Regions from separate parts of the Homo sapiens genome. Here regions 2 and 3 are each linked to region 1. Evidence: fine-mapped expression QTL. A gene starts in region 1. Each other region holds a variant in brackets. All regions are shown on one strand. Distances are from middle to middle. Region 1 holds the start of AQP11 (aquaporin 11). Region 2 overlaps NARS2 (asparaginyl-tRNA synthetase 2, mitochondrial). Region 3 has its middle 3.5 kb from the start of INTS4.

What was found.
Region 2: its variant is fine-mapped to the expression of AQP11 in whole blood (TOPMed, PIP above 0.99).
Region 3: its variant is fine-mapped to the expression of AQP11 in whole blood (INTERVAL, PIP above 0.99).

The regions. Positions count from the first base shown.
Region 1 is chr11:77,588,231-77,592,586 of GRCh38, reverse strand. It overlaps AQP11 (aquaporin 11), which reads right to left and starts at 2,634. Exons shown (of 3, transcript NM_173039.3): 1 at 1,976-2,634. The coding sequence starts at 2,594. RefSeq lists a silencer at 2,658-3,287.
Region 2 is chr11:78,455,093-78,459,092 of GRCh38, reverse strand. The region is part of intron 11 of NARS2 (asparaginyl-tRNA synthetase 2, mitochondrial); the gene reads left to right. Among named protein-coding and RNA genes, the nearest start is that of LINC02728, 27 kb to the right of the region's middle. The variant T/C (reference allele first, on the strand shown) is at 1,556.
Region 3 is chr11:77,995,973-78,000,328 of GRCh38, reverse strand. No RefSeq gene overlaps it. Among named protein-coding and RNA genes, the nearest start is that of INTS4, 3.5 kb to the right of the region's middle. RefSeq lists a silencer at 2,319-2,519. The variant A/G (reference allele first, on the strand shown) is at 2,015.

The sequences.
Region 1 (4,356 bases):
TATTAAAAGTAGACAGAAAGAATATCAACTTCAGGTTAATCAAGAGAGGGAAGAGGAACATAGGTATTGAAAAATCCAACTGTAGTTAATGTTCTATTGATGTAAAAATTCTTTTTTAAGTTTTTACTGCTTTTAATTGTAGAAATAAAGAGCTAAACCATAGCATAACTCTTTTTGCAGTGACAATTCTGTTCATATACAGGGGATGTTTCTGCTTTAGCTAAAATCTAAAACTTCAATAAATAAGCAACTACCCACCAATCCCTCAAATATGCCTGTACTTGTCACTCTTTTTCTCTTTTTCTTTTTTTTTTTCTTTTGAGACAGACAGGGTCTCTATAACCCAGGCTGGAGTGCAGTGGCACTATCACAGCTCACCACAATCTCAACCTCCTGGACTTGGGTGATCCTCCCACCTTAGCCTCCCAAGTAGTTGGGACTACAAGTGCGCACCAGCACGCCCGGCTAATTTTTGTATTTTTTGGAGAGATGGGATTTCTCTTATGTTGCCCAGGCTAGTCTCGAACGCCTGGGCTCAAGCGATCCACCTGCCTTGGCCTCCCAAAGTGTTGGGATGACAGGTGTGAGCCACCGTGCCCGGCCCCCTTCACTCTTCTATACCACTTATTTCCATTTATGTCTACTTAAAAAGTGGTACTAGACCTAAAGAAGGGGAAATTGATTGGGAAGGCTTGCTTTCTTTCTTTTTTTTGAGACAGAGTCTCACTGTTGTCGCCTGGGCTGGAGTAAAATGGCGCGATCTCAGCTCACTGCAACCTCCGCCTCCCGGGTTCCAGCAATTCTCCCGCCTCAGATTCCCGAGTAGCTGAGATTACAGGCGCCCACCACCATGCCTGGCTAAATTTTTTTTGTATTTTTAGTAGAGACGGGGTTTCACCATGTTGGCGAGGCTGGTCTCAAACTCCTGACCTCAGGTGATCCACCCACCTCGGTCTCCCAAAGTGCTGGGATTACAGGCGTGAGCCACCGCGCCCGGCTGAAGGCTTTCATTTTTACCCTAGAAGGTCAAGTACGTGTTTAGGAGTCCTTATCTTGAAGTTTGCTTCTAGTCATTGTTTCACTTTTAATGGGCAGAAGATTATTACCACAAATTTCCTTTGTTGTTATTTCTGCCTCCACAGTCTTTTATAATTTAGATGTAGTCCCAATAAAGATATTCTGTTGTAATCATTTAAAATGACACATTTCATCATTAAATACTTGTGTTTTGGATTTCCTCCTCCCACTTAGGACTAGATTGCCCACTGCATCTGAGATCTGTCAAAGTAAACAAATGGTTTAAAAGAAATCAACAGATTTCTCAAGAGTTATATTTTAAAAAGCATCTTTAATTTGAAGCAAGTTATCATTTAAACATTTTTCTTAATAGGTCACTTAAAAGTTCATGTATAACTCAAAATGAATTATTAAGGAAATAAGAAATTTCATAACTCAAAATGAATTATTAAGGAAATAAGAAATGACTTTAAATCATTTATAGGACTAAAATGGAACTACAAAATTTCTACCCTCCGCTCTTATACTAACCAATCATGTGCCTTGTGCTTTAAATCGAAAGGAACTTTGTAAAGCCAGGATCATTTTTCAGTAAGAGTATCCGAAACGATCTATACCACCTTGGCATGAAGAAAGAGGCAGTTAATAAGTTATCTTTCCTTTCTACCATTAAAACAATCCCTTTGTAGGATATCTGAACCCTTGGCAATATCTCACAGTATCTCAGTTTCAGCACAGAGGTGGCTCCTTTCTCTGGGTGTTCAAAGCAGCACTGCATGAAGGCTCTACGTGTCGGCCCTACTGGTTAAGAACGGGCTGCAAAATGGTTAGAATAACGGGGATACCAGCATTTACATCATAGCGGGATAGACGGTTTCAAATGTATTTTAGTAAAGAACTTACAGCCTCATGTCATAGAGGCTCTGGAAGTGCCAAGTATTTGGTGAGAATGACAAACCTGCATAGACCAAAAAGGTGATGAGTGCAGCCAGCAGGTGGATACGAAGCTTGGTTCGGACTTCCTGGAAGTGCAGCAGAGCGCTGTGGAAGAGAAAGGAGCAGACGGCCTCTGTGATGACCGCTTTGAGCAAGTCGACTCGGATGGGATTCTTGCAAGCGAAGCTCCTCTCGCTGACGTGATACTGGGTCAGACCCAAGCTCCACAAGGCGCTTGTGCAGTACCTGCTGCACAGGGCACTAACCAGCTGAGCCAATAGCCTCACCGCACCCGTCTCGGGGGACATGCCCCCCAGCATCATCTGCATCATCACGCCGCACGGGTTGCTGGACGTGCCCACCAGAGTCAGGCCATGCACAAGCGAGAAGAAGTAGACGAGCGTCAGCGTCCAGGTGGGGTGCGCGGGGTGCTGTTCGCTCAGCAGTTGCAGCTCGTGGGTGCAGCAGCAGAGCTGGAAGGTGGCTAGAAACTCCAGGACGAAGGCGTGGGCCACCGGCCTGTGCAGCTGCTGCCGGGCGACTACGCGGGCCAGCCCCATGAGCAGCACCACCGACAGCATCAGTCCCAGCGAGGTGCAGGTGTCCTGCAGCTCGGACCGGAGCCCCAGCAGCGGCGACATGGCTCCGTCGCCGCCTGAGCGGGTTGCGGGCTCCGGCTCTGGGTAGGAGGCGGTCTCCAGGCCCGAGTCCGAAGTCCGCAGCCCCTCCCCTCCTCACGCCCCTCGGGGCGGGACGAGCGGGAGGCTCCCGAGCGGCACACTTAAGAAGTCCTCCCCGCCTCCCCGGCTTGGCGCTGGGGTGTTGGAACCAGAGCCGAGGAGGCGGGGAGGCGGGGAGGCGGGGAGGCGCGGGGAGGCGCGGGGAGGCGAAGGGAGGTAGCCTAGGGCGCCGGCCGCAGGGCCAACGGTCAGCCGAGCCCACCGCGCACTCACCCTCCGCAGTCTCCCTCAGGGCCTTGTAGGCGGGCGCGGCGGCGGAGGGCCGGCGCGGCGCGGTCGACGCAGCGCTCTTGGTGCCCACTGCGCACGCGTGCTGCGGCCCTTGCGCCCCTGCGGGCGGTGACACCCGGACCACGGGGCGGAGAGGAGCGGCACGGCGCGGCGGAGCTCTGATGGTTGCTTTGCAGCGAGGACCTTAGAGTTTTTCTTTCCCCGCTCCACACTGTAAAACCGTGGAGCTGGAAAGACCGCTGAAGGCCATCTCACATAGCCACCTCGTTTTTATCAATGGGCGACTGAAATTGAGAGGGGAGACGCGGCGCAGGGGGCGGGTGAGTTAGTGGGCGTAGACCGGTGCGCAGGGCCTCCTGGAGCCTTGCTTTTCTTCACCTGCCAAAAAACATTTCTAAAAATGGTGGTAATATATGCCAGATAAAATTCGCCACTTTAATCAATTTAAGTGTATATTTCAGTGGCATCGATTACCCTCACAGTGTTGTTCAACAGTCACCTCTTTTTTCCAGAACTTGAGCGGTGATTCTTCAAAGTGTAGCCTAGTTTTAGCATGTGACTGTCTATAACCTTTGGCATGAACTCTTTACGTATAATATGAAACAGTTGTGTCTTACTGTTACATGCACTCTTCGTGAAGAGGAAACAACAGGTAACTGGAGAGGTCTGTTTCCAAGAACTGGGGGTCCTGGCGCACCTCTTCCATCTGCTTTGAAAGCAGGAATACGGCTGCGTGAGGTGGAGCGCGTCCGGAGTCCCAGCACGGAGAGGCTTAGGTGGGAAGACCGCTTGACCCCAGGAGTTCCAGGCTGCAGTGAGCTGAGATCGCGCCACTGCACCCCTGCCTGGGCCACAGAGCGAGACGCTGTTTTTAGAAACAAAAACAACAACAAAAACCGGGCGCGGCTGGGCGCGGTGGCTCACGCCTATAATCCCAGCACTTTGGGAGGCCGAGGCGGGCGGATCACCGGAGGTCGGGAGTTCGAGACTAGCCTGACCAACATGAGAAACCCCCGTCTCTACTAAAAATACAAAATTAGCCGGGCATGGTGGCGCATGCCTGTCATCCCAGCTACTCGGGAGGATGATGCAGGAGAATCGCTTGAACCCGGGAGGCAGAGGTTGTGGTGAGCCTAGATCGCGCCATTGTACTCCAGCCTGGGCAACAAGAGCGAAACTCCGTCTCAAAAACAACAACAACAACAACAACAACAACAACAAACCAGTCAAACAAACAAAAAACAAAACATGAAAGCCACTTAGTACAGTTCCCAATACGTAGAAAATATTCACTAAGTGGTAGCTTACAGTGGAAACAGCAGGTTTCAGCAGCCAGAGTGCACGGCTCTTGCCACCGCATTCCAGTCCCAACAGCTTGTCCCCTGGGGTGGCCCATTGTAGGTGCAGCACTTTGGGAGTCCGAGGCAGGCGG
Region 2 (4,000 bases), 870 kb before region 1:
AAATACAAAAAGTAGCCAGGCATGGTGGCAGGCACCTGTAGTCCCAGCTCGGGAGGCTGAGACAGGAGAATTGCTTGAACCCAGTAGGCAGAGTTGCAGTAAGCTGAGATCACACCACTGCAGTCCAGCCGGGGCAACAGAGCGAGACTCCATCTCAAAAAAACAAACAAACAAACAAAAAAAAAACCCACCATCAGATCTCCTTAGACTTACTACCACAAGAACAGTATGGGGAAAATATCCCCATGATTCAGTTATCTCCCACAACAAGTGGGAATTATGGAAGTACAATTCAAGATGAGATTTGGGTGGGGACACCCAGCAAAACCATATCAACTTCTTTTTCATTCATCGGTATATTCCTAGTGTAATGCCTGGGACGTGGTGGACACCTAGTATCCGTGTGGTGGATGGATGAATGGATTAATGAATCAAATCCAACAAAGTTTAAGACACACTGTCGACGAGTAGTGAGTTGATCTGCTGTGAATTTGCTGGGAAGCTAAAAAGCATCTTTAATTTTGTGAGTGGTAGCAACATAGCATAAAGGAAAGTCTAGTGGCTATAGAGTTAGACACTCTTGGGTTCAAGTCCCCACCCCACCTCTGTGTATTATAAACTATGTGATTTTACATATGCCACCTAATCTTTTTGTGTCTTAATTTCCTGATCTGTAAAAATGAGACCATAATATATTATGGAGTTGTGAGGATTAAATCAAGTAATATAAGAAAAGTAGATAGCTGTGTTTTAGGAAGTAGGTAGTCAATAGGTATGAAGTTGTCTCTTCCTACTTTCTAAATTTTAATAAAATTTTTCCCCTTTCATGTTTAGTTGACATGTAATAATTGTATGTATTTATGGAATATAGAATGGTATTTTGGTGTATGTATATAATACTGATCAAATTAGGGTAATTAGCATATTCGTCACCTCAAACATTTTTCATTTCTTTGTGTTGTGAACATTCAAAATCCTCTCATCCACCTTTTTGAAAATATACAATAAATTGTAGTTAACCGTATTCACCCTATATTGCTGCAGAATACCAGCACTCATTCCTCCTATCTAGCTATAATTTTGTATCTACTAACCAACCTCTCCCCACCCTTCCAAGCCCCCGTTACACACTGTTCTACTATTTCCCATGAGCTCAAAAAATGTTTTATTCCCACATATGAATGAGAACATGCAATATTTATCTGTGCCTGACTTTAAATTTTGATAAAATCTTATGATAAAGTACAATGTGTGTGTGTGTGTTTGTGTGTGTGTGTGTGTGTGTGTGTGTGTGTTGTTACATAATAACATAAGATTCCTTAAAAGGTAGTTCTCTCATAGATCGCACTCACAAGTATCTTACCTTCAACAGTACTGGGAAACCTTCATTATGACACAGTCTCTCTAGTAATGTGGTCTCACACCCTAAAGGCGTTATACTGGGACTTTAACATACTTCCATAATTTATGCAGTACTAGAGTATATAGCTTCTCAGAGCTAAACTATTCAAATATAATTTATTTAAACTTGTTACATTAGCCATAGAGAATAACA[T/C]TGGTACATTAGCAGTGTACATTTCTTTTCAATCCATTTGTATGAAGTGCCTGCTTCTATCCCTCATTTGTTGTTTTCTGGTGAAGGAAGAAGCTTTGGGCCAGATGACTAAATTCTGTTTCTTTTAGTAGGGCTGTAATAACTGGCTGTAAGTTCGCAAGAGTTCCTGTAATGGATGCAGTGCAGTCTTGAAAAAAATAAGACAGGTGTGTTTCATAGGTGCCTTCTTTAGGGAACCAAAAGAGAAGGATGGGGAAATATCTAATCTACACTTGTAACTTTTGGCCAGAGGGTAATAAATAGTAAAATGGTATGTTTTTACAGTTATAATTTATCTTCCTTTCTCCCCACCTCTCAGTAGAAATGAAGGTATGCGCTGTGGTGTACTGAAAAGTACACAGGATGCAGAGTGGTTCTGGGTTTGAAATCTAGATACCTTACTAGTTACCTGTGTCACCTCAGGCAAGTCTCTGTGATCTTTCAGCCTCAATTTCTCCCTCTGTATAATCAGAGAATTGGATTAAGTGACCTCTAAAGTATTACCTCTCTAAGATTCTCTGATTTCCTGTAGCCTAAGTTTTTCTTCATATGCATGGATAAGACTAACTTATAAATTACTGAGCATATTTGATCATTTGAAAGGGACAGATCATGGGAAAATGAATCTAAGCAAATATGCAAAATGCCATATGCCTCTGAGGCTGGTCTCCAGGTAAGTCCCTCAAAGCCAGGTGGCAGATGTTCAGCTGGGGGAGTGGCTTCACAGAGAAGAATAGTCTTTTATTCTACACACGTGTAATTAGGAAAAAGTGACTGCCCCTCAGTCCTTGATGAGATGCCACAATCACCAGGTAGTGTTCTAATTTTCAAAATTATATCAGTATTACTTAGCAAACCAGAGAAAGGTCAGCATTAGTGGGCATTCAGTAAAGTACATACTGTGAAGTCAACTCAGAAAGGAGAATACTCAGCCAAGGGGTGTGCAATAAATTTCCCAGAGCTGTGGCTAATTAACCAACCTGCATCAAAATAGCTCGAGCCACCAACCAACAGAAATAGTGATGAAGGGAATTGCCAATTTTCCCCATATCTAGGACTAAAGAGAATCCTAGAAATTTTTGTCAAAATTGAAAGTATCCATTTCAGTCTGTCGTAAAATACTTTGAGATTCTTTATCATGACATATTTTATATTAATACTTTGAATTGTAGAGTTAGGGAACATAGGGAAGAGAAATCCTTTTATGTGTGTGATACAGACTTCTAAGGTTTTGTTACCAAACTGTTTCTCCCATTTCAGTCTTCCCAGTGTGTCTTAATTGAACAAGTTTGGTTAAAGCAACTGAGATAAAAGTGAACGTAAATGCCTCCTAAGTCTTTTGGTAGAGTAAGAGTGTCGAGGAATCTTCATTATTAAAAGTAGCAAGGAAAAGACATTTAGGGAGTTGAGAAATTATTTATATTGTCTCACTTAACTAAATAAGATTAACTTTGTAAGATTAGAGATTACTTAAAACATGGTAGACAGAGGAAAATGGAAGAAAAGATTAACAAAGATTAAATTTTTGACGTTCCAAATTGACATCTATTATTGAGTACCCGTGTGGCAAGCATAACGTTAAAACATTCAAAAGAGAAAACAATAATGTTTATCGAGTATGTGCCGATAATTAACTTTTATCCCTTTCTTACAGATGAGGCTGCTACCTCTCAGTGCAGCAGTATAGTCACTCATGCAAAATCACACCGCTAGCAGGTATTGAAGCTAGGCTGTAAAGGCAGAAATACAGCATATATGGCAGCTTCATTAGAATCCTGATCTTTCTGGGAGTGAAGAGTTTGTGTGGGGTGGCAGGAAGAGCTATGGACTTAGAGCCAGGAGACTTGGGTTTTGTTCCTGGATATACCACTTGATCTTTCTTGTCCTCAGTATTCTCAGGGGATCATAGTCAATCTCTGGTGATAGAGGTCAGGAAAGAGGTTACTTTTGGTAGGGGTAGTAACTAAAAGAAGACCTTAGGAGGACTTTTTTGGGGTACTGCTATTGTTCAGTTTATTGATCCGTATGGTGCTTCATGGTGTGTTTGTGAAAATTTATAGAACTGTATACTAGTTATTTGTGTACTTTTTACACATATTTTATACTTTAAGTTTACTTTAAAAGGGAATTACACACTTGTATCATCACAGGTTTGTTGTGGAAATCAGATGAACAAATGTTTTTAAAATTGCTTTAAAAATTAAAATTCTATGCTATAAAAATAATGGAGTAAGGAATTATTGGGTGATAAAGATGGCTAGACAAGATAGGAACAATTATGGAGAGATTGGAGTGTTACAGATAGCTTGGGCTTTATCCAGTAAAAAACAGAGAGGCATTGTATGTATTCTAAGATACTGGCAAGATGAAAAAATTAACCTGACATATAGAATGGATTGGGGAAGG
Region 3 (4,356 bases), 410 kb before region 1:
GAATGTCCACCAGAGGGCACCCATTCTAGAAGAGGGTCTCAAAAATCAAGGGCACAATGATCCAACCTGTGGATGTCAGCCAGCCTCTTTCCCCAGCAGCTCAGTGCTTGCTCGATGGAGACATGAACAAAAATCCCTGCCATAATGGCAGGGATAGAGGCTATTCATGGGCTGCACAGTACAGACTTCCTCTCACCAAAGCTAATCTAGCCACTGATGTATGTCCAACCTGCCAATAGTAGAGAGAGACCAACACTAAGCCCCTGATATGGTATTATTCTCAGAGGGTACCAGGCACTTCTTGGTGGGAGGTTTATTGCACTGCAAATCAGTTAGCAAACTGCTGGGAAAAATTCTGGTGTTTCTGAGCAAATGGCATCAACAGCTTTGTTTGAGGATGTTTGCAAAGCTGCTTAGGAGCAGGGAGCAGATTTACTTATATTCCAGGGTAATAAAGCTAATATGGTCCTCAAATCCTGGAAACATTTCAGAGTGATAAAAAAAAATGTCCCCCATGGGGTGGAAGGCAGATTTGTTTCCTGACCAGTATAATAAAGTCTGCCTCCAGAGGACAAGTTTCTCAGCAGTCCTCTTTCAAGAATGGGAAGTTCCTAAGCTCAGTGTTCTCAGCTGTTACAGATCTATTGTGTGCATGGCATTCACCTGTATAACTGCCATGGTGCTTGGTTGGCAAGGAGAACTGAAACAAATTTGGAGTTCATGCCACCTGCTATGCTGTGAATAATCAACTGCCTAAATCATTTGGGCTTGTTGTCTCCTTACCAGATGAAGTGTGGCAACTTAACTTAGCGCTTAGGGAGTGCCTGACTGTGTGACAATTTCCTACCCCCAAATGTAATGACTTAAGACTACAGCTATTAATTATTTCTCACAGGCCTACAGATTGGGCAGTTCTGGTCTCAGCTGAGATCACGCATACATCTGTAGTCAGCTGGTGGATTAGCTGGGGCGGAGCCGGTCTCAGATGGCTTCAGGTGGGTCAATTTGCCTGTGTTCCATGTGGTCACTCACTCTTCAGCAGGCCAGGTTGGATTTGCTGTCATGGCAATGGTGGGGGTCCAAAATCAAACAAAAGGTCTGGGAAATTGTATGTGGGTGGACCTTGAGGCTTAGACTCAAAATTAGCACGCTGTCACTTCTACCACATTGTATTGGCCTGTCACAAGGCCAGCACAAATTCAAAGGGTGATAATATAGATTTCATCTCTTAATAAAAGCACCTTCAAAGTCACACTTCAAGGGGTATACATACCGAGAGGGGGAGATTTGGGGCTTTTTTTGCAATCATTCAACTACACACTGGATCCTTTCCATCATGGAAGGAGCAGTGATTTGTCCTCACAGGAATAGATTCATATTCCAAATTCAGATTTGACTTCCCTGCCTGCAATATTTCTGCCAGCTCCATCATCTATGGATGCCTCATTCATTATCATAGTACTCCACACATTGCTTCTGATTAAGGAGCTTATTTTATGCTGAGAAAATTGTAGTGAAGAAACTTCTTGGTCTTGCCAGGAACCCCATCATTCAGATGTAGGTGCTATAATAAAGCAGAATAATAACCTTTTGGAGATTCAGTTATAGCGCTAGTCAAGAGCCAACACATTGTGAGTTTGGGCCGCTGTTTGTGGCATATGCCTTATACCAACAGCTAAAATATAGTACTGCTTCTCCCACAGTTAGAACATGGGTCTGGTTATCAAAGGGTGGAGATAGGAGCAGTTCCTCTCTCTTTTACACCTAATAATTCATTTATGAATTCTTGGGCTCAGTAGGTTTGGAAGACTTACTCCCCAAGGGAGGAACAGTTGCCCTAGAGAACATAGTCATTGTTCATTACATTGGACATGTAATGAGACTGTCCCCAGACCACTGGGGCTCTTGTTCTGAACCAGCAGGTAGAGAAGAAGTTACTAAGTTGGGCTGCTGTTATGCAAGAGAGAGAGAAGACTGAAGCCTCACGGATTCATTCACAGGTGAACCTTAATGT[A/G]TTTTCATAAGTAATAATAAAAGTCAAAGGAAAATGGCATCAATACAATAAAGACGGTTTTTCAATTCAACATTAAAGAATGTGTGTTCTTGTTTCTATACCAATCTGGCTCATTGAGAAGTTGGCTATACCAACTTCTCAAATTTATTTATTTATAATTTAAAAAAAATTTATATAGCCAGGCGTGGTGGCTCATGCCTGTAATCCCAGCACTTTGGGAGGCCGAGGTGGGCAGATCACTTGAGGTCAGGAGTTTGAGACCAGCCTCGGCAACATGGTGAGACCCTGTCTCTACTAAAAATGCAAAAAGATTAGCTGGGTGTGGTGGCGCATGCCTGTAATCTCAGCTACTCATGAGGCTGAGGCAGGAGAATCGCTTGAACCTCAGAGATCGAGGCTACAGGGAGCCACGATTGTGCCACTGCACTGCAGCCTGGGTGACAGAGATAAACTCCATATAAATTTTTTTTTTTTAAAATATAGAGACAGGGTCTCTTTCTGTTGCACTGACTGGTCTGGAACTCCTGAGCTCAAGGGATCCTCCCACCTACCACCTCCCAAAGTACTGGGATTACAGGCATGAGGCACCATGCCTGGCCTCAACTTTATTTTTATTGCTTCTTCTGTTCCCTGCATGCACTTAACTTTCAACATGAACTGAAGTTCCTTTGGTTTTCGGAATGCACCAAACTCCTTCCTAAAGCCATTTATTTATTTATTTATTTATTTATTTATTATTTTGAGACAGGGTCTCATTCTGTCACCCAGGCTGGAGTGCAGTGGTGCGATCTCAGCTACTGCAATCTCTGCCAAGCGGGCTCAAGCAATCTTCCTACCTCAGCCTCCCGAGTAGCTGGCACTACAGGCATATGCCACCACGCCCAGCTAATTTTTTGTATTTTTGGTAGAGATAGGTTTTCACCATGTTGCCCAGGCTGGTCTCCAACTCCTGAGCTCAAGCTATCCTCTCACCTTGGTCTTCCAAAGTGCTGGGATTACAGGTGTGAGCCACCGCACCTGGCCGCCATGTATTTAATAACGATGATAATACTCTGTATCATTGATGCTATGATGCACATTTAATGTCTCCGAAATCAGGAGATGTTGGCCAATCGCTCATATGTATACTGAGTCGTAGCAGTTCATGGTGTCATCGCTTCGACTGAGCTCTGTGCAATTTTGGAATTACATGTGTTATTTTAAATTACTATTAAATATATCTCCAAATAGATTACCCTATAATTTGGCATTAAAAAGTTCTTATGTGCACAGGAAGACATGGAAACAGCAGTGCGAGGTAAGATACAAATCTATGTCTAAATAAGTTAAAAAGAGCTGTTTCTGTAAGTATACATAACAAATCTAAGCAATTAGAAACCATTGTATTTAATTTCAGCATTTCTTTTCTTAACATAATAAATAAAATATTGATTTTACAATTGCTGGCAGCTTAGATTTGATAGAATATGATAATGGTAATAATAGCAGCTAAGCTTTATTAAAGGTACTGTTTGCTAAATGTTTTTCATTTCCCTTGACATATTTGTATATCTTATCTCGGCGGTCTGGGATGCCTTTGTTTCTGGAAAAACTCATTCTTTTAAAGCTGCATTAGAAATAGTTTCCTTTTTTTTTCTTTTTTTTTTCTTGAGACAGAGTCTCGCTCTGTTGCTCAGGCTGGAGTACAGAGGCCCGATCTCGGCGCACTGCAGCCGCTGCCACCTGGGTTCAAACGATTCTCCTGCTTCAGCCTCCCGTGTAGCTAGGATTACAGTCACCCACCCCGACGCCCGGCTAGTTTTTGTATTTTTAGGAGAGACGGGGTTTCACCATGTTGGCCAGGCTGGTCTCGAACTCCCGACCTCAGGTGATCCGCCTGCCTCGGCCTCCCAAAGTGTTGGGATTATAGGGGTGAGCCACCGCGCCCAGCCTTTTTTTTTTTTTTTTTTTTTTTTGGAGACAGGGTCTCACTCCGTTGCCCAGGCTGGAGTGCAGTGGCTGGATCTCGGCTCACTGCAACCTCCACATCCCAGGCCCAAGCGATTTTCCCGCCTCAGCCTCCAGAGTAGCTGGGACTTCAGGCGTGGGCCACCATCATGCCCAGCTAAATTTTGTATTTTTAAAGTAGATTTCGCCATGTTGCCCAGGCTGGTCTCAAAACTTCTGAACTAGGTGATCTGCCCGCCTCGGCCTCTCAAAGTGCTGGGATTATAGGCGTGAGCCACCACTCCCAGTTTCCTCTAATTTTAGGAAAGCCTTCCCTGAGGCACTCTGAAGAAATTAGGTCTGTTTGAACCACATTCATTCCCGTTACCCAGCACATTTCAGTTGCACTGTCACCA